Linked DNA regions of Homo sapiens. The protein of the gene in region 1 interacts with the protein of each later gene in a biochemical or structural test. Each region holds a gene or a part of one and is shown in the gene's direction. Other genes may lie near its edges.

The links.
Region 2: the proteins of DLG4 (region 1) and DGKZ interact in a biophysical measurement, tested with the Homo sapiens proteins (one large-scale study listed by IntAct).
Region 3: the proteins of DLG4 (region 1) and FRMPD4 interact in a biophysical measurement, tested with the Homo sapiens proteins (2 studies listed by IntAct, with this or other methods).
Region 4: the proteins of DLG4 (region 1) and NDE1 interact in a test that uses a peptide from one of them, tested with the Homo sapiens proteins (one large-scale study listed by IntAct).
Region 5: the proteins of DLG4 (region 1) and LNX2 interact in a test that uses a peptide from one of them, tested with the Homo sapiens proteins (one large-scale study listed by IntAct).
Region 6: the proteins of DLG4 (region 1) and NCBP2L interact in a test that uses a peptide from one of them, tested with the Homo sapiens proteins (one large-scale study listed by IntAct).
Region 7: the proteins of DLG4 (region 1) and BPIFA2 interact in a test that uses a peptide from one of them, tested with the Homo sapiens proteins (one large-scale study listed by IntAct).

The regions. Positions count from the first base shown.
Region 1 is NC_000017.11:7,186,140-7,190,505, reverse strand, and holds the end of DLG4 (disks large homolog 4), read left to right. Parts: 3' UTR 1-3,319; downstream 3,320-4,366. UniProt on the Homo sapiens protein: Postsynaptic scaffolding protein that plays a critical role in synaptogenesis and synaptic plasticity by providing a platform for the postsynaptic clustering of crucial synaptic proteins.
Region 2 is NC_000011.10:46,370,568-46,374,962, forward strand, and holds part of DGKZ (diacylglycerol kinase zeta), read left to right. Parts: intron 1-745; coding exon 746-817; intron 818-919; coding exon 920-1,036; intron 1,037-1,136; coding exon 1,137-1,208; intron 1,209-1,507; coding exon 1,508-1,603; intron 1,604-1,860; coding exon 1,861-1,943; intron 1,944-2,049; coding exon 2,050-2,110; intron 2,111-2,203; coding exon 2,204-2,317; intron 2,318-2,393; coding exon 2,394-2,534; intron 2,535-3,589; coding exon 3,590-3,668; intron 3,669-3,831; coding exon 3,832-3,887; intron 3,888-4,036; coding exon 4,037-4,099; intron 4,100-4,198; coding exon 4,199-4,272; intron 4,273-4,366; coding exon 4,367-4,395. UniProt on the Homo sapiens protein: Diacylglycerol kinase that converts diacylglycerol/DAG into phosphatidic acid/phosphatidate/PA and regulates the respective levels of these two bioactive lipids.
Region 3 is NC_000023.11:12,144,504-12,148,898, forward strand, and holds part of FRMPD4 (FERM and PDZ domain-containing protein 4), read left to right. Parts: intron 1-4,395. UniProt on the Homo sapiens protein: Positive regulator of dendritic spine morphogenesis and density. Required for the maintenance of excitatory synaptic transmission. Binds phosphatidylinositol 4,5-bisphosphate.
Region 4 is NC_000016.10:15,691,354-15,695,748, forward strand, and holds part of NDE1 (nuclear distribution protein nudE homolog 1), read left to right. Parts: intron 1-456; coding exon of another isoform or gene 457-515; exon of another isoform or gene 516-813; intron 814-2,811; coding exon 2,812-2,903; intron 2,904-4,395. UniProt on the Homo sapiens protein: Required for centrosome duplication and formation and function of the mitotic spindle. Essential for the development of the cerebral cortex.
Region 5 is NC_000013.11:27,574,951-27,579,345, reverse strand, and holds part of LNX2 (ligand of Numb protein X 2), read left to right. Parts: intron 1-4,395.
Region 6 is NC_000023.11:107,783,904-107,788,298, forward strand, and holds part of NCBP2L (nuclear cap-binding protein subunit 2-like), read left to right. Parts: intron 1-4,395.
Region 7 is NC_000020.11:33,174,385-33,178,779, forward strand, and holds part of BPIFA2 (BPI fold-containing family A member 2 precursor), read left to right. Parts: intron 1-1,022; coding exon 1,023-1,175; intron 1,176-3,762; coding exon 3,763-3,844; intron 3,845-4,395. UniProt on the Homo sapiens protein: Has strong antibacterial activity against P.aeruginosa.

The DNA.
Region 1 (4,366 bases):
CAGGAACCTGGGGTCTGGGGGGGAGCTGGGCTCCTTGTTCCGAGCCCTTGCTCCTTAGGATCCCCGCCCCCACCTGCCCCCAATGCACACACAGACCCACCGGGGGCCACCTGCCCTCCCCCATCCTCTCCCACACACATTCCAGAAGTCAGGGCCCCCTCGAGGAGCACCCGCTGCAGGGATGCAGGGCCACAGGCCTCCGCTCTCTCCTAAGGCAGGGTCTGGGGTCACCCCTGCCCTCATCGTAATTCCCCATGTTCCTTGATTTCTCATTTATTTTTTCCACTTTTTTTCTTCTCAAAGGTGGTTTTTTGGGGGGAGAAGCAGGGGACTCCGCAGCGGGCCCCTGCCTTCCACATGCCCCCACCATTTTTCTTTGCCGGTTTGCATGAGTGGAAGGTCTAAATGTGGCTTTTTTTTTTTTTTTTCCTGGGAATTTTTTTGGGGAAAAGGGAGGGATGGGTCTAGGGAGTGGGAAATGCGGGAGGGAGGGTGGGGGGCAGGGGTCGGGGGTCGGGTGTCCGGGAGCCAGGGAAGACTGGAAATGCTGCCGCCTTCTGCAATTTATTTATTTTTTTCTTTTGAGAGAGTGAAAGGAAGAGACAGATACTTGAAACTTGGTGTGTGGCCTGGTTATTTGGGACCTGGGTGTGGAGGGAGATGGGCGCAGCAGAGTCAGATCCTTCTTCACTCCAAGCCAGAGAGGTTAGTGGCCTGGAAAATGGGCCAGGGAGGTAACTGGCAAATCAAGGAACCCGAGTTGGTGAAGACTGAGCCTGGGAAGGTCTGGAGCTCTGTCCAAAGTCATGACAGGCCAGAAAGGGGAGGCTGGAACTTGTCTGGGGCCCTGCAGACTTAGTCCAGCTCTGATCCCTGCCGGGCTGTCTCAGTCCTGTTGGGAAGCACAACAGTCCTTAAAGGAAAATAGAGAGGAAACTTCGTTCATTCATGTTCATGGAGTTGTGGACAGAGCTAGGATCTGGAAATGATTTTTTTTGTTTTTTTGTTTTTTTTTTTGAGACAGAGTCTTGCTCTGTCGCACAGGCTGGAGTGCAGTGGCTCGATCTCGGCTCACTGTGATCTCTGCCACCCTGGTTCAAGTGATTCTCCTGCCTCAGCCCCCTGAGTAGCTGGGATTACAGATTACTGCCACCATGCCTGGCTAATTTTGTATTTTTAGTAGAGATGGGGTTTCACCATGTTGGTCAGGCTGGTCTTGAACTCCTGACCTTGTTATCCACCCGCCTCAGCCTCCCAAAGTGCTGGGATTACAGGCGTGAGCCACCGCGCCTGGCCTGGAAATGATCTTTACAGAGTTCTGCTGATAAGAACTGCTGTGTGAATATACGCTAGGTTTCTTTATGCGCCCCCCCCACCCTTTTTTTTTTTTTTTTGAGACAGAGTTTCGCTCTTTCGCTCAGGCTGGAGTGCTGTGGTGCGATCTTGGCTCACTGCAACCTCTGCCTGCTGGGTTCACACGGTTCTCCTGCCTCAGCCTCTCGAATAGCTGGGATTACAGGCGCCTGCCACCACTCCTGGCTAATTTTTGTATTTTTAGTAGAGATGGGGTTTTGCTTTGTTGGCCAGGCTGGTCTCGAACTCCTGACCTCAGGTGATCCGCCCAGCTTGGCCTCCCACAGTGTTAAGATTACAGGCATGAGCCACTACGCCCAGCCTTTATGTCCTATCTCTATGGGAAAGATCTGAGGCAGCTTTGTAAATAATGAGGGTAGGAAAATAAGAATCTAAATGCCAAAGATGAAAACTGGAGAAATGTATATGAACTGTGAGGGTAAATGTGATCTCTGAGCTTCCTGATAGCCATGGCAAAAAAGGAAATTGTCAATTACCTACTTCTTTATTATAAGGGAGAAATAATTTTAGTTCTTTTAGGGAGTCATATTTTCCTGGCCCTAAGTCCTAACTGAAGCTCCTGAGATCCTGCTATGTAGAATGGTGACTCTCAGCCTTCTGCCTTCTTCATGTGTTTGGCACAGATGAACCTTTGGGGGCACCTGCTGGGGTACTATTCCTTTCTCTGATTCTCAGGTGCTCCAGTGGGTAAGGCTGAGGCAGAGGGCCCTAAGAGTTATGGTGGTTAAATCCCAAACAGTGCAAAAGGGCATTTTTTGTAGCCACTCCTGACTAAAGTTGAGAGTTTCATGCAAAAGACCAACCCAGGGGTAGTGATTCTGTGGATGGCATGGCCGTCCAAGCCTAAAGTAGTCCAAGAATAGAGGCAGAGATTGCTGAAGGGGTGTCACTTCAACCAGTAGCCACGTATTGCCCTGCAGGATTTTCTATGCAGGACCGAGTCCATCAGGATCCTGGGGATAGGGACCAGGGGTCTGCATTTCTGGAAAGCTCCCGGGTGATTTTGATGTCTCACTGGGTGGAGAAGCACTGCTTCAGAGGATTTTTTTTTTTTTTTTTTTGAGGTCGAGTTTCACTTTTGTTGCCCAAGCTGGAGTGCAATGGCGCGATCTCGGCTCACTGCAACCTCCAACTCCAGGGTTCAAGTGATTCTCCTGCCTCAGCTTCCCAAGTAGCTGGGATTACAGATGCGTGCCATAACACACAGCTATTTTTTAATATTTTTAGTAGAAACGGGGTTTCACCATGTTAGCCAAGCTGGTCTCAAACTCTTGACCTCAGGTGATCTGCCCGCCTTGGCCTCCCAAAGTGCTGGGATTACAGGCGTGAGCCACTGCACCTGGCCCTGATGTTTTTCAAATAATCCTTCTCTTAGCTTGGTTCTGTGTAATAGCAGATGGCTTGAGGCTGTGATAACGTTCTCTATCGTGAGCTGAAGGGAGAAATCTAGGAGCTGAGGAAGGTGTGTGCAGGTAATGCGTCTGCGTGTTAAACTAGAAGGGGCAGAATCACATATTTGACCTGGATGGGGTAGAATCACATAATTTTGCATGTATTATTATTATTATTATTATTATTATTATTGGAGACAGAGTTTCGCTCTTGTTGCCCAGGCTGGAGTGCAGTGGTGCGATCTCTGCTCACTGCAACCTCTGCCTTCCGGATTCAAGCTATTCTCCTGCCTCAGCCTCCCGAGTAGCTGGGATTACAGGTGCATGCCACCACGCCCAGCTAATTTTTTGTATTTAGTAGAGATGGGGATTTCACCATATTGATCAGGCTGGTCTCGAACTCCTGACCTCGGGTGATCCACCCCCCCCCCCCTCGGCCTCCCAAAGTGCTAGGATTACAGGCATGAGCCACCGCGCCTGGCCTGCATGCATTATTTTGTAAATTATAATCAGTACACGTACCTGACAACAATTCAAATAAATATAGAAATACATACTGTTTTTAAAAAGTTTCCTTCCTGTTTCCCTCCAGGCATTATTCCTCAGGGGAAGCACGGTTGCCGCTGGGGCTGTATTCTTCCAAGGCCATGGCCTGGCCGCTTGAGAAGGCAATGTAATTAATGCATTGGAGCCCTGGGCTCCCAAACAACATAGGTTCAAATCCTGGTTCCTCTTCTCCCCACACTTTTTACTTCTTTCAGTAAATACTTCCTTGGATGTTCCTTGGAACCAGGCAGTGTTCTAGATGCTGGGAAGGCAACATCCCTGTCCTTAGGGAACTTTGGGTGCATCCAGTGGAGATGACAGACTATAGGGAGTAAGTGAACACAGAGTGTTTAGACAATGATGGGTGCTACTATGAAAGAGAGTGATGGCCCTTGCTGGTTTAGACCGGGCGGTCAGGGAGGCCCCTTGCAGCATCATTTGGGTGGAGGCCTGAAGGACAACAAAGACTGGGGTGGTGAGAGTGTGCCAAGTAGGGAGACGAACAGTCTGGAAGGAATAAATTTGAAAGGTTGGAGGACAGAAGGAGGCCACTGGAGTGGAGTAGGGTGGGGGACAGAGAGAAATAGGTGTGTCAGAGAAGTCAGAGAGGCGTGGCACACAGGACTTCCCGTGGATTTTTCAGAGTGGTGTAGAAGCTGCTGGAGGGCTGTGGAGGGAACCGTGAGCCAGTTACTCTGGGTGTGAAGGGGAATACACAGCAGGGGGCAATGGAGAGCCAGCTAGGCTGTTGCTGGCGTTAGGATGAGGGACGATGGTGGAGTCACTGTCACTCTGGGGAGAGCTTAACCTCTCTAAGCCTCAGTATACCTAGCTGTAAAATGGAAATAACTACCTACCTTGGTGGATACTTGGGAGGAATAAACTGGAAAGTACACGTAAAGCCCTCAGCACAGTGCCTGACGCATGGTAGAAAATGGTAGCAATTATTGTCATTGGCCTCTTGGTCTATTTTCAGATATGCATAAGCCCAAAAGTTAAAGCCTGGAATCATTTGGAGTTTTAACAAGTTTTACCCTCAAAAAGTAGGAAAGAGG
Region 2 (4,395 bases), on another chromosome or scaffold:
GTACTCGGAAGCGGCAGTAAATTTCTTTAACAGCACATGGGGGTCTGGTCAGGCCTCGGGGGTAGGAAGGAGGGAAAATCCGAGTGAGGCAGGAGTTAGCCTGCAGTGTGGCAGAACGGGTATGCATGTGGTGCCGTGCAGGTAACTTCAGGGAGTCAGGGGGCCCGGGCTAAGCCACCCTGCTCTTCAGGCTTATCTTATACATATTTTTTTTTATTTTAAAAAATGTGTTCAGACTGGGTGTGGTGGCTCACGCCTGTAATCCCAGCACTTTGGGAGGCTGAGGTGGGTGGATCACCTGAGGTCAGGAATTCGAGACCAGCCTGGCTAACATGGTGAAACCCTGTCTCTACTGAAAATACAAAAAATTAGCTGGGCGTAGTGGTGGGCGCCTGTAATCCCGGCCACTCAGGAGGCTGAGACAAGAGAATCGCTTGAACCTGGAAGGTGGAGGTTGCAGTGAGCCAAGATCACGCCACTGCACTCCAGCCTGGGCAACAAGAGCGAGACTCCATCTCCAAACAAAAACAAAAAATGTGTTCAAAGCTGGGCATGGTGGCACATGCCTGTTGTTCCCAGTTACTTGGGGGGGCTGAGGCAGATTGCTTAAGCCCAGGAGTTTGAGACCAGCCTGGGCAACATAGCGAGGCCCTGTCTCTGGGTGGAGAGAGGCTGGCACCAGGAGAGGGGCTGGGTCTGCTGCTCCACGCCTGCCCTGGTTCCCATCCATCCTGTCTACCCTCAGGGATTCCAGCAGAAGTTCACCTTCCACAGCAAGGAGATTGTGGCCATCAGCTGCTCGTGGTGCAAGCAGGCAGTGAGTGGTGCCCCCGCCCCCAGGGCCAGGCCCTGCACTGCTGGGTTTGGGTCCCCGAGTCTGAACACGGTCCCGCTGAGCCCGGCCCCTCGCTCTCCTCAGTACCACAGCAAGGTGTCCTGCTTCATGCTGCAGCAGATCGAGGAGCCGTGCTCGCTGGGGGTCCACGCAGCCGTGGTCATCCCGCCCACCTGGATCCTCCGCGCCCGGAGGCCCCAGGTGAGTACTGCCTGCACCCTTGATGCCCCGTACGCACTTGGGGTCTGCCAGCTACCCCAGCCTGCCCACCTCGTCACCAACACCCCTGCTTCCCTTGCAGAATACTCTGAAAGCAAGCAAGAAGAAGAAGAGGGCATCCTTCAAGAGGAAGTCCAGCAAGAAAGGGCCTGAGGTCAGCCCCAGGCTGGGCAGAGGCTGCAGGGGAGCAGGAGAGAGGGGTCTGTTGCTCAGGGTACAGAACTTCCACCCCCAGCTAATGCTGCCAGCTGGTGGGGGTCTGTGTGGGCTCTGGGGCCTCTGAGGAAGGCAGGATTAGATGCCAGTTTCTGCTCTGTGGCCTGGTAAGATCTGGCCCAGAGATGGTACGTGAGGGTACAAAGAGGGAACAAAGTCACCCAGGGGGCCTGCTAAGGATGATGGTAGGGTGTCCTGGACGGGAAGGAGCTTACAGCCTCTCACCTTGTCTCCCAGGAGGGCCGCTGGAGACCCTTCATCATCAGGCCCACCCCCTCCCCGCTCATGAAGCCCCTGCTGGTGTTTGTGAACCCCAAGAGTGGGGGCAACCAGGTGAACGCGGCCTTGCCTCTCAGCTAAGGGCTCGGGCGGGGGTTGGGGTCCAGCCCGTCTGCCAGCAGCTGTTCCCAGAGCCCGTTTCTGGCTTCTACCCCAATCCCTCTTTCCCAGGGATCCTGAGAAAATCCTGTCCTTTCTCCACCCCTCACCCCTTATTGGCCCTGGTTCCCACAGTCACACCCCTCTCCCTCTGCTGCTCCCACTTCGTCCCACCACTGCCTGACTGTCTCTTGGCTCCCCATCCCATCCAGGGTGCAAAGATCATCCAGTCTTTCCTCTGGTATCTCAATCCCCGACAAGTCTTCGACCTGAGCCAGGGAGGGCCCAAGGAGGCGTAAGTACTTGCCAAGGTTTTGTGGGGGACATGGGGGGGAACTTGCCTCACTCCTGGGGTACAGCACACATCCCCTGACCCCACTGCCATCTTCCCATGAGCCCAGGCTGGAGATGTACCGCAAAGTGCACAACCTGCGGATCCTGGCGTGCGGGGGCGACGGCACGGTGAGCTCCCCGCATGGGCCAGCCGAGCACCAGGGCTGGGCCTGAAGCCGGGGTCCCTGTGGGCCTGATTTGCCTCTGTTCTTCCTCCCCCAGGTGGGCTGGATCCTCTCCACCCTGGACCAGCTACGCCTGAAGCCGCCACCCCCTGTTGCCATCCTGCCCCTGGGTACTGGCAACGACTTGGCCCGAACCCTCAACTGGGGTGGGGTAAGCACCCATAGGAGGGGGGTGCAGCTGGGGCCTCTCCAGCCACAGAGGGCTCAGTCCCTGCCTGCTCCCCCAGGGCTACACAGATGAGCCTGTGTCCAAGATCCTCTCCCACGTGGAGGAGGGGAACGTGGTACAGCTGGACCGCTGGGACCTCCACGCTGAGCCCAACCCCGAGGCAGGGCCTGAGGACCGAGATGAAGGCGCCACCGACCGGGTAAGTTGGCCAGGGTTGGTGGGGGGCAGGGCAGGTGACTGGGGACTGGATCCCACTTTTCCACTTGCTGGTTCTGGGACCTCGGGCGTGTCTCTTCATTTCTCCAACTTCCACTTCTTCCTTGTACGATGGGAATAATAGTACTTGCCTCACAAGATGCTGTTTTTTCTGTGTTTTTTTTTTGTTTTTTTTTTTTTTTTTTTGAGACTGAGTCTCGCTCTGTTACCCAGGCTGGAGTGCAGTGGCGCAATCCCAGCTCACTGCAACCTCCGCCTCCCAGGTTCAAGCGATTCTCCTGCCTCAGCCTCCTGAGTAGCTGGGATTATAGGCAGGTGCCACCACACCTGGCTAATTTTTGTTTTTCTGTTTTCTTTTTTTTTTCTTGTTTTTTTTTTTGTTTTTGTTTTTTGTTTTTTGTGACAGAGTCTCACTGTCACCCAGGCTGGAGTACAGTGGCACAGTCTTGGCTCACTGCAACCTCTGCCTCCCGGGCTCAAGCTATTCTCCTCCGTCAGCCTCCTGAGTAGCTGGGACTACAGGCACCCGCCACCACACCCGGCTAATTTTTGTATTTTTAGTAGAGATGGGGTCTCACCATGTTGGTCAGCCTGGTTTTGAACTCCTGACCTCAGGTGATCCATCTGCCTCGGCCTCCCAAAGCACTGGGATTACAGGCATGAGCCACCACGCCTGGTCAGAAGATGCTGCTTTATTCCATAGACATGCACTGAGCGCCTGCTACCTGCCAGGCACTTCTCTAAGCAGTGAGCAAAACCAAGCCTCGCTGTTGTGCTCCACATGGCATGTCAGGAAGAAGTGTTAGGGGAGCTGACAGGGAAGAGATGCTGCAGGCACGCAGGGAAATCCCCCAGGAGCCACCAGGCAGAGCAGGGCTGTGCCTGACAGCGGGTGAGCTGGGCTGAGCCCTAGCGGACGCTGCTGACCAGGAAAAGCCTGTGAACAGATGGGCTGAGCTGGCTCGGCCACACGAGGCCCCTGGAGCGGGGACATTTGTGAGGCCCAGCCCTCATTTTGGTCCCTTGACCTTTTTCCAGTTGCCCCTGGATGTCTTCAACAACTACTTCAGCCTGGGCTTTGACGCCCACGTCACCCTGGAGTTCCACGAGTCTCGAGGTTGGCAGCCTCCCACTGAGGCCAGGGCAGGGTGGGCACAGGAGTGTCCCCGGGAGGGTCAGACCCTGCTCCCGCCAGTGAAGGCATCCATCCCAGCCCTCCCCCAACCCCACCTGGGCAGGCTGGGGTGACTCACTGGCCCCCACTGCTTGTCTCCACCCAGAGGCCAACCCAGAGAAATTCAACAGCCGCTTTCGGAATAAGATGTTCTACGCCGGGGTGAGTGGGGTCTGCACCCCCGCCTGTGCCCACCTCTTCTACCACCCGTGCCCGTGCCCACCTGTGTCCACCAGGCCCCAGGAGCCCTGCCGGGTGCTGGTGAGGAAAGATCTCTGTCAGCAGATGGTGACGCCCTCTGTCTCCCACAGACAGCTTTCTCTGACTTCCTGATGGGCAGCTCCAAGGACCTGGCCAAGCACATCCGAGTGGTGGTGAGCGGGGCCAGGCTGCCGTGGGTGGGTGGGCCGGAAGGGAGGGAGGCGGAGGCCACCTGGCACATGCACCTCAACACCCTCCCCGCCCGCCTCCAGTGTGATGGAATGGACTTGACTCCCAAGATCCAGGACCTGAAACCCCAGTGTGTTGTTTTCCTGAACATCCCCAGGTGAGGAGGGGGCTACCGGAGCTGGGGGGAGCCCTGCTGTCCTTGTCCTGCAGAGACTGTGTTTTGAGGCCCATGTCATCGCCCGCCTTTGCAGGTACTGTGCGGGCACCATGCCCTGGGGCC
Region 3 (4,395 bases), on another chromosome or scaffold:
TATATTTTCAAGTATGGTTTACAGAATTTGGCATAAGATAAATAGTCTATACTAAATAATTAGTGAGTGAAGTCATATACAATTCATTCTAACATTTGTTGCAAACAAATTGTCATATTTGTTTAGCTGAACAATTACCATGTCAGTACTTCTTTATTGAATATAACGGAATACAATGTACATGTTAAAAGTAAATAGCCTGCTCTTGGACTTGGTCTCAGAGAATAAACTTTTATTTCTGTTTTTACATTTGAAGTATATATATATTATATATATAAAATATAATATATATATTTGGTGATTGATGGTTAAAAAGTCATCAACTTGTATTTCCAAGGAGTCTCTGTTTTACTGCTTTAAGCTCAATAAGCAAAGTTATGATGATATTGAAATGGGTTTTTATAGATGTCAGTAAGTTTTTATTTTAGAAAGTCTTTTTTGAAAGCTAGGAAAACACAATCATTTCTATGAAAGAAATGTTTCCAAAGTTTGAAAATGAAAAGTAATTTCCCTGCAATTACAATTTACTATAGGGTTTTAATTTTTATTTTGGTTATTTTTTATAGGCTTCACAAGTTTTATGAGATTTGCTTAATTGAAAATAAGAACATGATTACCTGACAAAGATGAGGTTCAAAGAAAGCAGTAGGCAAAAGTTCATAAAATTAATGGTAAAATTTTCCTAATGAATGTAGGAATGAGTGTATTTTTCTATTGAACTGGCACAGTTATTTATCTGGTCAGAGACTGGTGTGGGGGAGAACACGCGGCCATCTGGCTGATTCAAGGCTGTTGTATTGATTCAACATTGGATAACATACTGACCATGGTGATTTTACAATGGTTCCTGTAACTGGAGTCCTGGATATTTGTCTCTTTTGAAGTTCACGATCCAAGTCACCGGTCTTTACCCTAGTACAGGAGCAGTTAGCAGTCTCAGCTATACAGTGGTGGAGTCTGGAATTAGTTTTGGTGTAAATCCCAAACATGCCCAACTGAATTGTGGCTCAGGGCGATGTCCTGCTTCATGGCCTAGGGCCAGGGCTGGCAAACTTAACCCATCTGATGTGTTTACTTATTTTAGAAAGCTTTATGACCATTTTTATAAATAAAGTTTTATTTAAACACAGCCATGCCCTTTTGTTTGTATACTGTGGCTGCTCTTGGGAGAGTTGGATAGCTGTGACAGAAACCACATGGCTTGCAAAGCCTAAAATATTTACTCTCTGCCCTTTACATGGGTATTTTACTGTTCTTCTTTGATCTCTCTGCCCAGTACTCAAATTTCCCTTTGGGGCAGTCTGGGTGTCAGCCTTCTTTACTAGCAGGGGGAAGGATGGATATGGTTGGAGATTCACCCTGAACACAGTCACCCTTGCCAGCCCCGCTCTGGGGGACTTAAACTGTCAGCACTTACAATACCACTTGTAGGTTAACTTAGAAGCTTTGTAAAGTGCAAATTGGATCCTCCCTGTCCCCTCCGTCTACATACTTTTGAGGGGAAAATCCATATTCTTTATCCTTACCCTTTTGGGTTTGGCCTGATTCACTTGGTTCCTTTGAGAACTGTATTTCTCGGGCTGGGCGCGGTGGCTCACGCCTGTAATCCCAACACTTTGGGAGGCCGAGGTGGGCGGATCACAAGGTCAGGAGATCGAGACCATCCTGGCTAACACGGTCAAACCCCGTCTCTACTAAAAATACAAAAAAATTAGCCGGGCGTGGTGGCGGGCGCTTGTAGTCTCAGCTACTCGGGAGGCTGAGGCAGGAGAATAGCTTGAATCTGGGAGGCGAAGCTTGCAGTGAGCTGAGATTGCGCCACTGTGCTTCCAACCTGGGCAACAGAACGAGACTCTGTCTCAAAAAAAAAAAGAAAAGAAAAAGAGAACCATATTTCTCTGAACTTGTTATTCCTCCTTTCCAGCCTTAACTTCCTACTCAACACCAAACACACACGTGTATACACACACATACAGAGACACACACACACACACATCTACCCCTAACCATGTTGAATTTTTTAGAAGTCCTAAAAAGTGCCACACCCTGAGCCTTTGCATAAACTCTTCATTTTGTCTGGAACAATCTTTATCTTGCCTCCTTTACACCTGAAAAATTCCTATCTGTCTTTTATATTTCAGCTTTTAATCTAAGGTTGTTCCATGTCACCTTCTCCAACCTCCCAATCCTGGGTTAAATAGCTCGACTGACATCTTTTATTAGCGAAGATAATTTCACTGCTTTAACAGATCAATCCCTCAATTTTTGTGGCCCATCTCTTGTTTGCTTGATACACAAAACAGGCATTCCTGATGGTGTGGGGGAGCTCTGATATGCTCAGCCATTCTGAGAACCTGTAAGATAGGACTATCTCATCTTCAGTATGCTATCGAAGGTTTCCTGCACATCAGTGTTCAGCTGACAGATGAGGGGAGAGAATGGTAGAAGATTGGGTGACAGGTTTTTAAGGGCTATGCCCAGAATCAAAGTATACCATTCTACCCTCATTCCATTAGGCAGAACTCTGACCCTATGTAACTGTGAGGCAAGCTGGGAAGTTTAGTGCCACTGTGTACCCTATCTGTGCTGGACATGTCATGCCCTGCTCTTTTCACAACATTTCTTCATTGTGTGGTAGATTGTAATTTTGTTCCCAATTCTTAAATCTTCCCTGAATCCAAGCCTTTTCCATGTGACATTATAGTTCTACTTCCTAGAGGTAGAGGGTACCTCTTTGCCCCATTGCTGTTGGGCTTGGCCAAGTAACTTGCTTTGGCCAGTGGAATATGGACAGAAGTCACAGGGTATCTGTTTTGGTACAAGTTTTTGGTAGGAGAATGCCTTTAAGGTATTGTACGTTTCTAAAAAAGAATGTAAAAAAGCAAAAAGCTCTTAACATTGCTATATGAAGAACTGCCTAGTTTAACCTGTTGGTCCTAGAAGCTAGATTCACATGGACCAGCACCATCAGGCAAACCTGTGAGCATGAAAACAGATGCTTATTCTTGTATGACACTGTGTTATGCAGCATTGTTGTGGCAATGGCTGACTGGTATAGATGGTATTATAATTGAGTCCAGTTTTGATCTGTGTCTCATTTATGAACTCTTCAAGGGCAAATCCCCTGGTATTAAACCTCCTTGGTTTATAGTAGATTTAAGGATACCTTGTTTCATTGCACTCTGGTTTATTGGTGCTTTATAGATACTGCACTTTCTACAAATTGAAGGTTTGTGCCAACTCCACATCAAGCAATCTGTCAGCACCATTTTTTCAACAGCATGTGCTCATTTCGTGTTTCTGTGTCATATTTTTCATTATTATTATTATATCTGTTATGGTGATGTGTGATCAGTAATCTTTGATGTTACTATTGGAATTGTTTGATGTTACTATTGCAATTGTTTTGGGCTGTCATGAACCACACATATAAGATGGCAAACTTAATTGATAAATGTTGTGTGTGTTCTGACTGCTGTACCAACTAGCCATTCCCTCATGTCTCTCCCTTTCCTCAGGCTCCCCTGTTCCTTGAGACATAACAATATTGAAATCAGGCCAATTAATAACCCTACAGTAGCCTGCAAGTGTTCAAGTTAAAGGAAGAGTTGTACATCTCTCACTTTAAATTGAAAGCCAGAAATAATTAAGTTTGGTACGGAAGGCATGTTGAAAGCTGAGATAGGCCAAAAACTAGACCTCTTGTGCCAAACAGTTCGCCAAACTGTGACTACAAAGGAAAAGCTCTTGAAGGAAATTAAAAGTGCTACTCCAGGAAACACACAAACGATAAGAAAGTGAAACAGCCTTATTACTGATATGGAGAAAGTTTGAGTGGTCTGGATAGAAGATCAAACCAGCCACAACATTCCGTTAAGCCAAAGCCTAATCCAGAGCAAGACTCTTAACTCTCTTAAATTCTGCGAAGGCTGAGAAAAGTGAGGAAGCTGCAGATAAAACGTTTGAAGCTAGCAGGGATTAGTTTGTGAGGCTTAAGGAAAGATGCTGTCTCCATAACATGAAAGTACAAGGTAAAGCGGCAAGTGCTAATGGAAAAGCTGCAGCAAATTATCCAGAAGACCTAGCTAAGATCACTGATGAAGATGACTACACTAAACCGCAGATTTTCAGTGTAGACTAACCTTCAATTGGAAGAAGATGCCATCTAGGACTTTCATAGCTAGAGAAGAAAAGTCAATGCCTGGCTTCAAAGCTTGAAAGGACAGGCTGACTCTCTTTTTTGGAGTTAATGCAGCTGGCGACTTTAAGTTAAGGCTAATGCTCATTTGCCATTCCACAACTTCTAGAGCCCTTAAGAATTATGCTAACTCTACTCTGCTTGTGCTCTAGGAATGGAACCACAAAGCCTGGATGACAGTACATCTGTTTACAGCA
Region 4 (4,395 bases), on another chromosome or scaffold:
CGGTTCACAAAGTGTTTCTGGGTAAGAATCTGGGGTGGGTCCTGGGGGTGTGATGATTTGCATCAGGCTCAGAGCCTGATTTGCTCTCAGGCTTTGAGCAGAGAGTAGACTGGGATGTTCTTGGGGATGGGCATTGAGATCAGTGAGGACTGGGTAAGAGGCAGTAGTGGAGTCTGATGAAATGGAAACCCCACCCAGAGCGGGTGGCTGCCACTCTGCAGCTACGAGGATTGGCCCTTCATCTGCAGCTTTTTCCATTCTTCAAAGCCAGAAATCCTCTTTTTTTTTGTTGGGTTTTTTTTTTTGAGACAGGATCTCACTCTGTTGCCCAGGCTGGAGTGTAGTGACGTGATCTTGGCTCACTGCAACCTCTTCATCGTGGGCTCAAGTGATTCTCCCACCTCATCCTCCGGAGTAGCTGGGACTAAAGGCACCTGGCTAACTTTTGTATTTTAGGTGGAGACACAGTCTTGCCATGTCGCCCAGGCTGGTATCAAATTCCTGGACTCAAGTGATCCGCCCACCTCGGCTGATCCCAAAGTGCTGGGATTACAGGTGTGAGCCACCGCGCCTGGTCAAAAATCCTCTTGTTGAATATAAAACCTCCCAAATTTGAAATGTCACTGACCAAATACAAAAAAGTAAAAAGCGTTCTGTGGGTTTAGTAATACATCCACCGAGAGCTAGACTCAGCGTAACGTGTGCTGCATGGGCAGAAAAAAAGAATCTCAGTTCTCACCCCAGCCCCTCTGCTGACAGCTTCCGATCAGGCCTTTTACAGCAGATATTAATAACAGACAGTTAAGGAGTGCTCAGTGTGTGCTGGCCAGCCTGCAGCCTTCGCCGCAGGCCCAGGATGCAGGTGCTGTCCCCGTTTGATGAAAGTGAGGCTCTGAGTTAAGCAGAGTCATGAAGCAATTGAATGGCAGATGGTTTGGGATTCAGACCCAGGCAGGCAGGCTCCAGGGCTTACCCTACCATCTACTACCTTATCCCTTAGCTTGTCCCCTGGGCATGAAGAGACCAGTGAGACTTCTAGAATTCCGGTGCAGAGCCCTTCTGTTTAGTTTTGTTGAGATGGAGTTTTGCTCTGTTGCCCAGGCTGGAGTGCAATGGTGCGATATTGGCTCGCTGTAACCCCCTCCTCCCAGGTTCAAGTGATTCTCCTGCCTCAGCCTCCTGAGTAAGCTTGAATTACAGGTGCCCACCACCATGCCTGGCTAATCTTGTATTTTTAGTAGAGATGGGGTTTCACCATGTTGGCCGGGCTGGTCTCAAACTACTGACCTCAGGTGATCTGCCTGCCTCAGCCCCTGAAAGTGGTGGTATTACATGTATGAGTCACTGTGCCTAGCCCCAGTCTAGAGCCATTTTGCATACTTTATTTCATTGTTGTTTTTAGAGACACAGTCTTGGTCTGTGGCCCAGGCTGGAGTGCAGTGGTGCAATCATAGCTCACTGCAGCCTCCAACTCCTGGGCTCCAGTGATCCTCCTGCCTCAGCCTCCTGAGTAGCTGGGACTAGAGGCATGCAACTCCATGCCTGGCTATGTTTCCACACTTCAATATGCATGTAGCTTACCTGGGGATCTTGGTAGAATGTACCTCAGATCAAGTGGGTCTTGGGTGGGGCCTGAAATTTCTTTCTCTCTTTTTTTTTTTTTTTGAGACAAAGTCTTGCTCTGTCGGCCAGGCTGGAGTGCAGCGGCATTGATCTTGGCTCACTGCAGCCTCTGCCTCCTGGATTCAAGCGATTCTCATGCCTCAGCCTCCCGAGTAGCTGGGATTACAGGCAGGCACCTGTTACCATGCCCAGCTAATTTTGTATTTTTAGTAGAAACAAGATTTTGCCATGTTGGCCAGGCTGGTCTTGAACTCCTGACCTCAACTGATCGAACTGCCTCGGCCTCTGAAAGCACTGGGATTACAGGTGTGAGCTACTGTGCCTGGCCGAGAGATTCTGCATTTCTAACAGTTCTCATGTGCTGCTGGTGCATGGACCCCACTTGGAGAAGAGAGGCTCTGCAGAGCGGGACCCTTGTAAAGCTGGATCATCCTGTCTATAGTTCTTGTATCTATCACAGATGCCATTATGTTAATTAACTATATGGATTTTCTACAATTTCAAAAGGATTTGTTTTGGGTTTGTTTAAAAAGACTAATGTGGCTGGGCACGGTGGCTCATGCCTGTAAATACCAGCCCTTTGGGCGGCCAAGGTGGGAGGATCGCTTGAAACTAGGAGTTCATGATCAGCCTGGGCAACATAGTGAGACCCTGTCTCTATTAAAAAAAAAATTTGTTAAAGGCCAGGCATGGTGGCTCACGCCCGTAATCCCAGCACTTTTGGAGGCCAAGGCGGGCAGATCATTTGAGGTCAAGAGTTCGAGACCAGCCTGGACAACGTGATGGAACTCTGTCTCTACTAAAAATACAAAAATTAGCCGGGTGTGGTGGCACATGGCTATAATCCCAGCTACTCAAGAGGCCAAGGCAGGAGAATCGCTTGAACCTGGGAGGCGGAGGTTGCAGTGAGCTGAGATCACATCACCGCACTCCAGTCCGGGTGACAGAGCAAGACTAACATGTAAAAATAAGTATTTGTTGCAGTCATCACAAGGACTTGAAAAATTGGTTGTCATACGGGCCTTGGGTGTGTGATGCGGTTAACTACGGAAAGAAATAGGGTAGCTTTTGGGATCCGAGGAAAGGCGTCAGTGTCCCTCCTGTCCCGTGGTTTTGGATCTAGCGATGTTAACGCACAGACATGACTATAGGTTGGTGAGTTACATGCTCTTCCCTTTGCACACCCAGGCCTGGACGACTCCACCGGGGGGACCCCCCTCACACCTGCGGCCCGGATATCAGCCCTCAACATTGTGGGAGACCTACTGCGGAAAGTCGGGGTAAGACCACACTTTCCTGGCGTTTGGTGCCTTCCTGCCTGTCTTTCAGGATGTGTGAAGGGGGTTGATCTAGTTCCTTCCCTCTCTTCTTTTTTTCTTTTTTTTTAGAGACAGGGTCTTGCTCTGTTGCTCAGGCTGGAGTGTAGTGGTATGATCACAACTCACTGCAGCCTCAAAATCCTGGGTTCAAGCGATCCTCTCACCTTAGCTTCCCGAGGAGCTTGGACCACAGGTGTGCGCCACTATGCCTGGCTGATACTTTCATTTTTTTGTAGTAATGTGGGTATCGCTGTGTTGCCCAGGCTGGTCTTAAACTCCTGGCCTCAAGTGATCCTCCCAGGTTGGCCTCCCAAAGTTCTGGGATTACAGGCATGAGCCAATGCGTCCAGCCCCTTTCATAGCAGTGTGGTGAGTTTTAGGTGTGGCTGCTCCTTTAGCATCCCTGGGAATCATTAGAGCTTCCTGTGGGAGTTACTGCCAGACACTCAGAGCTCTGACTCGAAGCCCTGCTCTGAACCCTATGTATGTCTCTTTCCTTTTACCGTTTTTCCTCTAGGAAATTTGGGAAATTAGGGTGATATGTGTGTTTTTTCCTTAACTCGAAAAATTAAGGAGCACTTGGAAACTGCCTTCTCTTTTGGCCGGGTGCTCATACCTGTAATCCCAGTGCTTTGGGAGGCCAAGGTGGGAGATTACTTGAGCTCAGGAGTCTGACACCAGCCCGGGCAACATGGTGAAACCCCCTGCCCCGACTTGGCCTCTACAAGAATGCAAAAATTAGCCAGGCCTGATGGTGTACACTGGTGGTCCCAGCTACTCAGGAGGCTGAGAGGTGGGAGGATTGCTTCAGCCTGGGAGGTTGAGGCTGAGTGAGCTGAGATTCCAACACTGCACTCCATCCTGGGTGACAGCACGACGTTGTCTCAGAAGAGAAAAAAACTGCCACCTTTTTTTTTTTTTTTTTTTTTTTTGGTTTGTTTCTTGGGGTTTAAGTGAATTTTGACACTTTGGGAGACCGAGATGGGTGGATCACCTGAAGTCAGGAATTCAAGACCAGCCTGGCCAACATGGTGAAACCCCATCTCTACTAAAAATACAAAAATTAGCCAGGAATGGTGGTGGGCACCTGCGATCCCAGCTACTTGAGAGGCTTATGCAGGAAAATTGTTTGAATCCGGGAGGCGGAGGTTGCAGTGAGCTGAGATCGCACCGCTGGGTGACAAAGTGAGACTTGGTCTCAAAAAAAAAAAAAAAAAAAATCTTGAAAGCCTAGGGCAAAGAATTTGGCCTTTCAGCTTTTATGTTAATTACAGGGAGGGATCCTTTTGTGCTTAAGTAAAAACATAGGTATTCTTTGTAGTTTATTTTTAAAAATGATGCCTAGAAGGCCACATAATTTAACTCCTACCAAGTTGTCACTGTACACAGTGTATTTGTAGCTACAACTTAATAGAAGCTTGCAACTCATTTCTTTTGTTTTTACTTCTGGTTT
Region 5 (4,395 bases), on another chromosome or scaffold:
AGCTAAGAGTGATTACTGAGTATATAAATGTAAAAAAATTATAAAATGTAATATGATTTTTATATGCCATTTGAACAGATAGTGATGAACAGCCTGACCTTTCTCTGTTCTCTTAAATAAGAACATTGAAATTCAGGTAGAAATGTATATTATACAACATTCAACCCTAAATAATATAGTTCATTTGTTTATTCAGCAAATATTGATTATCTGCTATGTGCCAGATACTTTTCTAGGTGTTAGGTAGTCTCTGCAAGTTAGAATCTAATGCCGGGTTGTAGATTCCTTTAGAAACAGAACCATGTCTTTATAGTCTTTCAGTTTATTTGCCCAAAGTTGACAGTCATCTCATGTTAGTCCAATTAAATTGTTGATCTGTGTTTCAGTTATTCATTGCTGAGAAACTAACCACCCCAGACACACTGACATAAAACAACAAGCATTTGTTGATTCTGTGAGTCAGGATGCAGACAGGATGAAACAGGGATGGCTTGTCTCTGCTATCTTTATGTGTGCCACAGCTGGGAAGGAGCTGAAAGCCAGGGACTGCAACAGTTGTAACTGGAGAGTCTACTTCCAAGATGGTTTCTTCATTCACATTTCTGACACCTTGATGGGAATGACTAGGTGCGTGGGACTTGTCAGCTGGAGAGGCTACAGGTAGCCTTCCCAGCATGACAGCCTCAGGGTATTTAAAGTTCTTACATAAGTGGTTCAGTGTCTAGTAGGCTGCATGGCCTCATATGATCTAGCCTTGAAGTTGCCTGGCATCCCTTCTCTGTTGGAAGCAGTCATAAACCCACCCATATCCAAGGAAAAGGGGACATAGGTTTCACCTTGTGATGGGAAGTCAAAAAAATTTGCAGCCATGTTCTAAAACCAACATAAACTAGCAAGAAGAATGATGTTATGCGGCGCAGAATATGATTACTACGACTGTTTGCGGCTTCTCGGTATACAAATCTCACTTGTTTGTTAGAAATTGGTAAGTCTGTAAGTTTCATTGAAATTCATAAGATTTTAGCATCAGCAACAAAGAGTCATTGTATAAAAGTTGCATGGCTGTCATGTGCCTTTGCTCTTGAGCTTTTAGGGTTTACAGGAATCTCTTAATTATTGGTAGAAATAGAGCATTAGCAGTAGTTTGCATAAATTTGATAATTTCACATTTAAGATCACCTTCCTATTTGAATGAAATCCTGCCCTTAACAAATGTGTTTTGATTTGAGAAGAGCAAACATTTTTCTCCTACAGATAAAATATTTATGAAAGATGAACATGTTTAAATAAAACTGCTATTTTTAACTGATTATGTATTAGTGAAATGAAGAATTTTAAGAGACATGGACAGTCTCTATCTTTGAACAGAGAAATAAAGCCTTTGAAAAATATTCTACATGTTGTACTAAATATGTAACATTTTGATTGTTTCTTTGAAATTCTGCCAAGCAACATCAGCTATATAGCATTCCTCCTACGCTCTACCACTCATCTCCAACCCACCCTTAACGATTTAACATTTAAGCCTTTGGTAATTGTAAGTGCTAGTTGTTGTTGTTGTTTTTAAATTGTGTGTTTGTGCCCTAGTTTATGGCAAGGTTCAGAATTACTTTTCCTCTTAAAAATTACAGTTTAATGCCATTATAAAAAGTTTACAATAGAAAACCTTTAAAGAAGCCTCTTTCCTTGCTGAGAACTTTTCTTGTTCATGAGATGGTTATGAAACCTTAAGTTCAAGTTTGTTCAGCCTGTGCCACATGCAGCCCAGGAAGGCTTTTGGGATTATTTTTTTTTTAAGCTTATCAGCTATCATTGATGTTAGTGTATTTTATGTGTGGACCAAGACAATTATTCTTCTTCCCGTGTGGCCCAGGGAAGCCAAAAGATTGGACAACCCTGCTTTAGATGATGGTCCAGGAAAAACTAAATAGAAAAAAAAGGGATCAGGATAGGCTGAGGCATGATTGCACTTTTAAATTCACACTTTAACTTGGAGGGAAGTTTGTGTTTAGCACATTCTTATCAGTATTGTTTTTTCATGTATGGTGTGAAAAAGCAGATATATGTATTTGCAAATCATGTGTATTCTAGTATCCAGAATATATAAAGAACTCTTAGAAATGAAAAGATAAATCCAATTTTAAATGGGCAAAGGATTTGAATAGATAGTTCTCCAAAGATACTCAAGTGGCCAGTAAGCACATGACATGCTCAACATCATTAGTTCATTTTTATATTGGATTATTTGTCTTTTTGCTAAGTTGTAAGAATTTTCTATGTATTCTGGATACTAGACCCTTACCAGATATATGATTTGCATATATTTTCTCCCATTCTGTCAGTTGTCTTTTCACTTTCCTACATCCTTTAAAGAACAAATATCTAATTTTTATGAAGTTCATTGTTGTTTGCTTATGCTTTTGGTGTCATATCTAAGAAAACATTGCCCAATTCAAGGTCACAAAAATTTACATGTACGTTTTCTTCTAAGAGTTTTCTAGTTTTCTCTCTTATAATTCAGTTTTTGATCCATTTGGAATTAATTGCAATGAGAAATCATAATGTGTATTGTTCAATCCTTTAAATTTTATTGAGGCCTTTCTTTTCTTTTTTTTTTTCTGGAGATAGCATCTCGCTCTGTCACCCAGGCTAGAGTGAAGCAGTGCAATCTTGGCTCACTGCAGCCTCCACCTGCTGGGTTCAAGTGACTCTTGTGCCTCAGCATCCGAGTAGCTGGGACTACAGGCGCACTCCACCATGCCCAACTAATTTTTTTTTTTTTTGTGCTTTTAGTAGAGACGGGGTCTTGCCATATTGCACCAGGCTTGTCTCAAACTCCTGAGCTCAGGTGATCCTCCACCTAGGTCTCCCGAAGAGCTAGGATTACAGGCGTGAGCCACCATGCCCAGCCTTGAGGCCTTTTTTAAAATGGCCTAGCACATGGCCTGTCTTGGAAAATGTCCTGTGTGTACTTGGGAATAATGTAAATTCTGCTGTTAATGGATGGAGTGCTCCATATGTCTATTGGGTCTAATTGGTCTATAGTGTTAAAGGGTCTATTTTCTGGTTCCATGTCTAGTTGTTCTGTTAGTATTGAAAGTCGAGTATCAAAAGCTTTATTGTTGATTTGTCTATTTCTCTCTTTGTCATTTTTTACTTACGTATTTTGGGGCCATTGTTTGGTACAATTTCTGTTTATAATTGTCATATCTTGTTATGTTTTTCTGTCTTTTGCTTTATTTATGTCTTTGAATCTGAAGTGTGTCTGTTGTAGACAGTTGGATTATGTTTCTTGTAGCCCATTCTGCCAGTCACTGACTTTTTATTGGGATGTTTCATTCATGTAATTTAATGTAATTACTGATAAGGTAGGCTTTACATTTGCCATTTTGCTGTTTGTTTCTATATGTCTTATTTCTTTTTTCCTCCATTTCTTCCATTTGTGTTAAATATTTTTAATATGCTATTTTAATTCCCGTGTCATTTCTCTTAATTAAAATTATTTTCTTAGTGGTTACCCTGGGGCTTACAATTAACATCCTAGTTTATAGCAGTCTATTTTAAATGAATACCAGCTTCATTTTCACTAATGAATTAGTCAGGGATCTGTAAGGAAATAGAACCAATATATGAGGAGTTGGCTGACATGATTAAGGAGTCTGAAAAATTACACGTTCTGCTCTCTGCACGCTGGCAACCCAGGGAAGTCAGTAGCATAATTCAGACCTTCTCAGTCAGAAGGTCTGAGAACTAGGAGAGCCAGTGATCCCAGTCTGAGGGCAGGAGATGAGATGTCACAACTCAAGCAGTAAGGCAGGAAAATAAGGAATGAATTTCTTCTTCCTCCACCTTCTGTTTTCTTCAGGCACTCAAAGGATTGAATGATGCAACCACATTGGGGAGGGCAATCTACTTTATACTTTATGGAGTCCACTGATTCACATGCTAGAAACAGCCTCACAGACACACTCAGAAACAATGTTTAATCTGGATACCCCATGGCCCACTCAGTTGACACATAAAATTAACCATCACAAGTAGTATACAAAAACTTTCATTCTCTCTCCCCTCCTGTGTGCTATTATTATTATACAAGTTGTATCTTCACACATTATGTGCCCATCAACACAGAATTATTGCTTTATATGTTTTTCTTTTAAATCAGATAGGAGTAAAAGAATTACAAACCAAATAATTCAGTACTGTACTGATGCTCTTCATTTTTCACATGAACTTGAGTTACTGTTTAGTGTCCTTTCACATCAGCCTGATGGACTTCTTTTAGTGTTTCTTGCAGGTTAAGCATGCTACCAACAAACATTTTGTTTTTACCTAGGAATGTCTCAATTTCTCTTTTATTTTTGAAGTCGGCTGGATATAGACTTCCTGGTTGAG
Region 6 (4,395 bases), on another chromosome or scaffold:
CACAGGCAAGTAAAGAGACAATCACAGTATATATGATAAGGATTGTCATGGAATGAAGCACAGAATGGTGATGGAAGGAACAAAGAGTGGGCATACCAAACACAGATTGGAAGGGTAAAGGAAGGCTTCCTAGAGGAGATGATGGCTTGAAGGATGAATTGAGAAGGACAAAGTACTTATCCAAGCCCATTTTTAGTGCCTAGTAGGCATTCATCTAATGAGATGGTGGATGTATAACACTTGGTACCTACCACATAGTCACAACTCAATATGTGGTAGATGTCATTATTGTTACCTGACCTTTTCAAACAAACTTGAATGGCAAGTTATGTTTACTATGAGGAGTATGTAAGATAATGCATGACATGTTAAGTACTTAATATAGTGTCTGGCATATAATAATTGCCCAGCAACTGGTGGCAGTTGATAGTGTTATTGTTGCTGCTATCATTATTTTTAGGTTTGGCTGGACTGAGATAGATGGAATCTTCCATCTCTGATCTTTTGGGTCATTCAACTCTGCAATTTGTTACATGTTACATTATTTCATATTACATGAAATTACATATTACATATTTATATATGTAATATGAAATTACATGTTACACATTACATTTTTTCAGATATAATGTCTGCAAGCATGCTTATGTTCAGAACTTTTCCCGATAACAATCTCTGGCCCCAACCATAACAATCTCTGGCCCCAACCACCGCTACCACCATCACCAGCCACATGGTGTTCTCAAGTTGTGGTCTCCACAAAGCATATAGGAAATAGAGGAGCTGGGCAGATGCGGTGGCTCACGCCTGTAATTCCAACACTTTGGGAAGCTGAGGCGGGTGGATCACTTAAGCTCAGGAGTTCAAGACCAGCCTGGGCAACATGGCAAAACCCCATCTCCACAAAAAAAAAAAAAAAAAAAAAAATAGCCAGGTGTGGTGGCATGCACCTGTGGTTTCAGCTACTCAGGAGGCTGAGGTGGGAAGATTGCTTGAGCCTGGGAGGTTGAGGCTGTAGTGAGCTGTGATTGTGCCACTGCACTCCAGCCTGGGCCACAGAATGAGACCTTGTCTCAAAAACAAACAAAAGAAAGAAGGAAGGAAAGAAAGAAGGAAGGAAGGAAGGAAGGAAGGAAAGAAAGAAAGAAGGAAAGAAAGAAAGGAAGGAAGGAAGGAGAAAGAAAGAAAGAGAAAAAAATAAAATAGAGGAATTGATGGTAGAAGAAGTGGAACAGAGCTGTTGTTGCCTCTGAAAATATTTTCTTTATAGTAAAGGGATGACATTGGTTTTCTGATGAGCCTCTGTATTTCCAATCTAAGGACAGTTGGTAGAAGTGAATCAAAATCTTTCCCCAACTTTGTTGGGCACTTTTGCTGTTCTGGATAGGAGGGTAGAGTGTATGTAGATTATAAATATGTTCCTCAGTCCAACCCCATCTCCCTACAACAGCTAGCAGAAATTCCTTCTCCATTAGCAATTAACAGTCCCTTTTCCCCTATTTTCCGTAGCTAGTGCAAGTTTTAGTTTTTTGTTGCAAAGCTTCATGGATATTTTAATGGGCATTCCTAGATGGTGGGTATCAGACTGTGTTATCTTGCTGCCATGTTAACCCAGAGTTCCCCCAGATACAATTGGTTTTCTTGCTAACAACTTCAGGGAGAAGGCACAAAAGTCCTTTGCTTTTTCATGGTCCTTTCTTACTGTCTTTCCAGCCCTCTCCATCCTGGGGGCCCTGTTTTCACCAGTCATCTTATTTTACCCAATACAGGAGTCCTCATCCTTTTTGTAAGGAAAAACTGTGTTGTATATTCCTGATGCCTTGATCTCCCTGGGAAGACGGAAATTAAAGGTAGAGGGAAGTTTACTGAATCTGGGGGCTGGCTACCAGGGTGTGGGAGTGAAGAGGATTGGGGAGATGCTGCTTACTGTCTTCCTCTCTGAGCTGAGAATCCAGGTAAACTGCAGAGAGCAGGGCAGGAGAAGGGCGATCATGTTGGAGAGTTAGCTTGCAAGGCCTTGATATTGTTTGTAGATCCCAAGCTACCGATTAGGGGCCCCTGACCTAATATAGTAAAAAAAAAAATGGTTTGTGTTGTCATTGTGGCTATTTTTTAATATCCTTCCAGAGGTATATCTCCCTTCCTGTATTAGCTTTCTAAATCTTGATACTGTGCACGCAGATTGATCCATTTGCCCTACTTTCCACTCCTTGTAGCATTGTCAATTGTCTTTCAGCCACCTCTGGAATTCTGGACTTGGTTTACCTAGCCTTTGTGACCACTCCATATATTGACATACAGGGAGCCTCCAAGCTGCAGACAGGCTGAGCTCTCAAAGTTCACTCTCAAGTCAATTGTTTGGAAGGTGACATGCATTTTTCCATAGGAGAAAAAAATTGTTATAAATTGAACTACATTTCCAGACCAGCCCACAAAAGATGTTTTTAGCTTTAATGTACTAAAAATGTGGGCCATTTGCAATGACAAAGTAGGAAATCTTGGTAATTCAGCAAAAACAAGAAGACAATCCAAGGGAATAAGAAATACTTTTGCTTGACTGCTGGTACTGGAGTCAAGAAAGCTGAACTGGATGAGGTACACAGGGCTTTCCGGAGGCTCTCCAGAAAGACTCATGGGGACTTTGAAAGTCTGGAATCATAACATAGTTCTAAGTTTACTTCAGAACTGATGGCTTTCAATAATAATGACTACCACATACTGAGCACTTACTGTGTGTCAGGCGCTGTGTTAGGCAGTTTACATACCTTCCCCTCATTTCATTTCATTCTCACAACAACACTATGAGGTAAATACTATAATGACCCTTATTTTACAGACTGAGGCTCAGAAGGGTCAAGGAACTTGACAAAAGTTATACAGACAGCACAATTAGAGGCCAAGTCAATGGTTTCCTACTGCCCAAACCTGTGCTTTACAATATATATCTGACCACTCTTTTCTTTTCTTTTCTTTATCTGGATATATTGGGAACACTACTTTTGGGGCTATCAGCCATGATTAGAGTTATGTGCCAGATCACAAGGAAACTAAGATTGGGAAACTAGGAGAGGTGGTACAAGGGAGAGAAGGAAGGAGGAAGGGACAGAGAATTTTGTTAGGCAAAAGTTCAACTAAGAAACCACATACGTCAGTGCTTCTCAAACTGTACTGTGCACTCAAATCACCTGAAACTCGTTAAAATGAAGATTATTATTCAGCAGATCTAGGGAGGGGCCTGAGATCCTGCATTTCTAAAAAGCTCCCAGGTGTGCTGCTCCTGCTGGCCCACGGACAACACTTTGAACAGTAAGGCCATATAGTGCAAATGATAAACAAAAAAATTCAAGCATCCATTAACACCTGCTTCCTAATTTAATCCAGATCAGCTTCTACACTAAACAGTCACTTATTATCCTCTTTTCTCCTGTAGCCTGTCTCAGGCCATTGTCTCCGCTTTAGTTCTGCCAGTCTGTTTCAGCTTATGTTTGTTTATTTATTTATTTGTACAAATTTAAGGGGTTCGAGTGCAGTTTTGGTACATGGATATATTGCAGAGTGGTGAAGTCTGGGCTTTTAATGTAACCGTCACCCAAACAGTGTAGATTGTACCCATTAAGTAATTTCTCATCTCTCACCTCCATGACATGTTTATGTTTAACTACTCATTTAAATACAGGTGTTAAATACATATGAACATCTTCTGTCACTCTGAGCACTAGGCAGTCTCAATCAGACATGAATTTCTCTTGGCACAAAGTAGATATTTGGCCACAGGGTTCCAGTCCTCAACAATGGCTCTCAGCTCTCTCACCCATTAGGAACAGTCTTATAAAGGTAAGGCATGTAGTAACACTACTGTCCCAGCGCTTTCTAATTTCCTTTCTTAGAGCTACTGCCTTCATCTGGAGCAGAAAGTAGCCTGGCTTTTTAAAGAGTCCAGATCCTTGTTCCTTTCACATAGTTGAAACAATCCCAGCATTAGTTTAAGGCAACCATTGAAAAGATTCTTTGCAGAGTCCTGCCAACTCCAAAAGCCCAGTGAAGTTTGTTTCCTGGAAGATAATTTACTTTATTTTGCCACCTCCTCTCCTCCGTCCTCTTAGGATTTTGACTGATCATTTTGAGCCATTCTTCATGTTTTTCTTCTATTTTTAGACTCTCTGACTAATTTTCTCCAGTAGCAAGAGTCAAGGAAAGCTTTCCACTCCAACCAAGCTCTACTTTTTAGGTAGGAAATATTCTCTCACAGTGTTTACAGATCAACTTGGTGATCTGTGGTCCCTGGCAACTGGATTGCTTTTCTATCTTCTCTTTAACCTTTGGGGATGTTAACCTTGGGGGTGACCCTTCTAACACCTTTAGCAGGTAGGTGTTCATTGCAGCCTCCACATGAAT
Region 7 (4,395 bases), on another chromosome or scaffold:
GTCTTTTAAAAACAATGCTCCATTGAATATAGTTTTGAAATCATGACATTTATCTGGTTTTAAAATTTGAAAAGTTGAGATAACAAACATTTATCATTCTTTGGCAAAATTTCCTCCAGCATTATTTTGTCCCTCAAGATTCTCTCTAAGTTGCAGTGACCACTACAGAAAAATTCATACAATAATACACAGTGTATAATAAAGTGTGTGTGTGCAAAATATAAGTTTAAACTCTTTTAAGTTTAGCTGGGAGTGGTGGCTTATACCTGTAATCCCAGCAATTTGAGAAACTGAGGTGGGAGGATTGCTTGAGCTCAGGAGTTCGTGACCAGCCAGGACAATATGACAAAACCCTGTCTCTACAAAAAATACAAAAATTAACCAGGTGTGGCAGCACACGCCTGTAGTCCCAGCTACTTGGGAGGCTGAGGCAAGAGGATTGCTTGAGCCGGAGAGGTCGAGGCTGCAGTGAGCCGTGATTGCACCACTGCATTCCAGCCTGGGCGACAGAGTGAGACCCTGTCTCACAAAAAATAAAAAATTTTAATTTTAAAGGAGATAGACAAGAAATGAGCATGTGTGAAAGCACTTCTGTAAACTACATGCACTAATGATGCCACCCATTATTTAGCTATGAGATCTTGGGATAGTTACTTAACCTCTCTGTACCAAGGTTTCCTCATTCAGAAAATAGGGATAGTAATAAATGAATCCAGGTAAAATACTTTTTTAAAGTACCTACACATAAATTGTTGTCAATAAATGTTAACTATTATTATTTTACTTATTAGTGTAATGTTGTATAAAAAATTCATATGAGCTAAACCCAAGTGGCCAGGAGAAGAAGCCCCTAATATAAACATGTAAATCTCATAGAGGATATGGACCATGTTGATATTACCTGGGCCATGTTGACATTACACATAGACATTCTGACTCATGTCCACACAGGTGGAGGAACCCAACTGGGCAACAGGCAGGAACTTCTAGACTTTGTTCACTGTGCATCTTACTTCCTGCAGGCCCATCATTGGCCAGATTATCAACCTGAAAGCCTCCTTGGACCTCCTGACCGCAGTCACAATTGAAACTGATCCCCAGACACACCAGCCTGTTGCCGTCCTGGGAGAATGCGCCAGTGACCCAACCAGCATCTCACTTTCCTTGCTGGACAAGTAAGTCCCATTCATCTTAGTAGAGCTGGGCTCTCAGGGAACTTGAGGACCCCTAATTTCAGCTCTAGTCCTCTACCTAAGAGGAGGCCTAGTGGTGAAAGTGTTCAGGCTCTGGAGTCATGTTGACCTTGGTTTACACATCAGCTCTGCCACTAACTTGTAACTTTATCACCAACTTGACCCAGGCCTGTTTTCACATCTGTAAACTGGGGGTGTTCATAATAACTACTCATAGGCTTCTGAGATGACCAGATGAGAAAATACAAATATTTAGCACGCAGCCTGGAACATGCTGCCTCTCTGCCTGCTGGTTCTCTCCATTACTGAGACTGGAGTGTTGAGCTCCCCACCATAATCATGGATTTGTTCATTTCGCCTTTCAACTCGGTCAGTTTCTGCTTCATACCCTTTGGAGCTCTGTTGTTAGGTGCATGCACATTAGGATTGTTATGACTTCTTGGAGAATTGTCCACTTTATTGTTATGTAATGTCCCTCAATAATAATAATAATAATAACGATAAAATTATATTTACCTTCTTGCCTCCAGTTGGGAGGGAGAGGGGAGAGTAAGTGCCTGCCACGGGCTCTAATTTCAGATTGTCCCCAAATCATCCTCCACCCAGTGGAAATTTCCTGAAAGGAGATCTTGAAAACTTAATCCTCTCCATTTGACTCACTGATCCCTTTTAATCCACAAAATCTACATCTTAAGCTCTGTGCCTGAAAGAGCAGGTTTGACTCAGGCAAGAGGGTGGAAGGAGAAAGAGTGATGCTGGCCGATGGCTGGGAGAGGATGAATGACCCAGAAGCTGAGGGCTGGGGCTACTTGGCCTTGGCCAGGAGCAAGGCTGGGTCCTCAGCTCTCAGCCCCTGTGGCCATGAGCAGAGGACACTCCACTCGCCCTGCACTGAGGGATCTGAACACAGGTTGCTCAAAGACCCCTGAAAACCAAAGAAAGTTTCCATAGCCTGATGTGAGTTGCGAAGGCCGGGGTGTAAATTCAGAGGCTGGAGCCTGGCTGGGTGCTATCTTCCCAAGTAGCCTCAGGGACGCCATCCTGCTGCACTAGGTCTGTGCCCACATCTGTGAGATGGCACCACTCTGAGGCTCCAGATCCTCCCAGGGTCTTTCTTTGCACTTGTGGTTCAATCCCAAGTGCTCCCCATGGTCATGAAGGCTCTGTTTGATCTGGCCCCACCCTTGTATCCCTGTACCCTCCCCTTACTCACTGTGCCCAGATACAGTGGCCTTTGTGCCATGTCTCAGATAGGCTGTTTCTCAAGGCTCTTTCCCAGCTTAAGACCTTTGCCTGGGGTGCTCTGGCTACCTAGAGCACCTTCTTCTCACTCCACTTTGATGGACTTTTGCATCCTTCAGGGCCTTCCCAGGGCTCCTCCTATTCTCTCTCGTAAGAGTCTAACTCTTGCCTTTAAAGCACTCGTCACAAGTTCTCAATATATATTTAATTGTATGTTCACTTCTTTCATTCTTTCAGCCAAAAATGTATTGAGGCTGGGCACGATGGCTCCACACCGGTAATCCCAGCACTTTGGGAGGCTGAGGTGGGTGGATCACTTGAGGTCAGGAGTTCAAGACCAGCTTGGCCAACATGGCAAAATCCTGTCTCTACTAAAAATACAAAAATTAGCCGGGGGTGGTGGCGGTTTCCTGTAATCCCAGCTACTCGGGACGCTGAGGCACAAGCATTGCTTGAACCCAGGAGGCAGAGGTTGCAGTGAGCCGAGATCGTGCCACTGCACTCCAGTCTGGGTGACAGAGCAAGACATTGTCTCAAAAAAAAAAAAAAAAGTGTATTGAGCATCTGCTGTGTGCCAGGCAGGCACCATTCTGGGCTCTGGAGAACTGATTGGTGATGACAGACAAGGTCCCTGTTCTTGCGGAGCTTACCCAAGGGAAAGCTAAGCTGCCGTGGATCTGTGTCCACATCTGTGAAATGACACCACTCTACAGCTCCAAATCCTCTCAGCGCTTTTCTTTGCACTTTGGATCCAATCCAACCCAAATTCAGTCCATCGGTAAAGAACGCTCCAGGGAAATGAGTCCTGCAGAAAGCATTACCCTTAACTGGGCACTGTGATAGCAAAGCTCTCTCTTAGGTAAGCAGTCAGGGAGGGGTGCCCTGAGGAGGTGGCAATTATACTAAGAGTTGAAGGTGGGAGGAGCCAACTTTGGCAAGATTTGTTTAGGTACCACATCAGGGTATGTTTGGACCCTTAATGTTTAGGTACCAGGTTAGGGGATGTTTGTACTTTACTTATTCGGTATCCTCAGGGCCCAGCTAGGTTCCTGGTGCATAGCTGGTGCTCTGTAAATACGGGTTGAATGAGTGAACGAATAAGGTCTCTGCGCTGAGAATCTCATGAGGCACTGGGGTGAGCCGCTGGTCAGATGTGGGAGTCTAAGTGATGATCCATGTGGATGGGAGGCTCTGTCTGTTAAAGTGTCTCCATGTCCCTGGGGTTTATCTGACTCCACAGTATTTCCCGCACCGCCCCCAACTTTTTGGCAGTTCTCCCATCTCTTGCCCACTTGACCAGACTTTAATAGTTCCCTGTGTTTTCCAGACACAGCCAAATCATCAACAAGTTCGTGAATAGCGTGATCAACACGCTGAAAAGCACTGTATCCTCCCTGCTGCAGAAGGAGGTGAGTCTCCCACTCCTTGGAGCCCAGATCCAGGCCTGGTGGGGGCAGGTGGGGGAATTTGCAGGCCTGGCTGTATCCTCTGAGCACTTTTCCTTCGGAGGTGAAAGCTTCTCCTTAGGAGGTCAGCTGGAGCTTCCTCCTCTACTAATCAGCCTGGTGGGTAGCAGGGTAGAGCAGAGGCCTGACATTAGCTGAAATTGCCAGGTCCCAAACTTGAGCCTCTCACCATATCCACGCACTACCAATATGCTTTTGTAGCTAACATCTTCAACACAATTTTACTTAAATATGTTTCTTTAGAAGCATTTATTTTTAAAAATAAAACTTTATATCCCTATCATAAATAGAAAATTAATATCACATATCATACAATCAATGGACTTATAAAATAGTTTTAATTTTTTTTCCATCTGTGCATCATCCAAAACCATAGGTACCATGTGCAGGATTACTAGGCCCAAAGTTGCAGAGATTCTAAATCAGTCATTCTGGAAGCAGACCCAGGAATGTGGGTTTATAAAAGAAAAATCCTCCGGATGGCTCTGTGACCC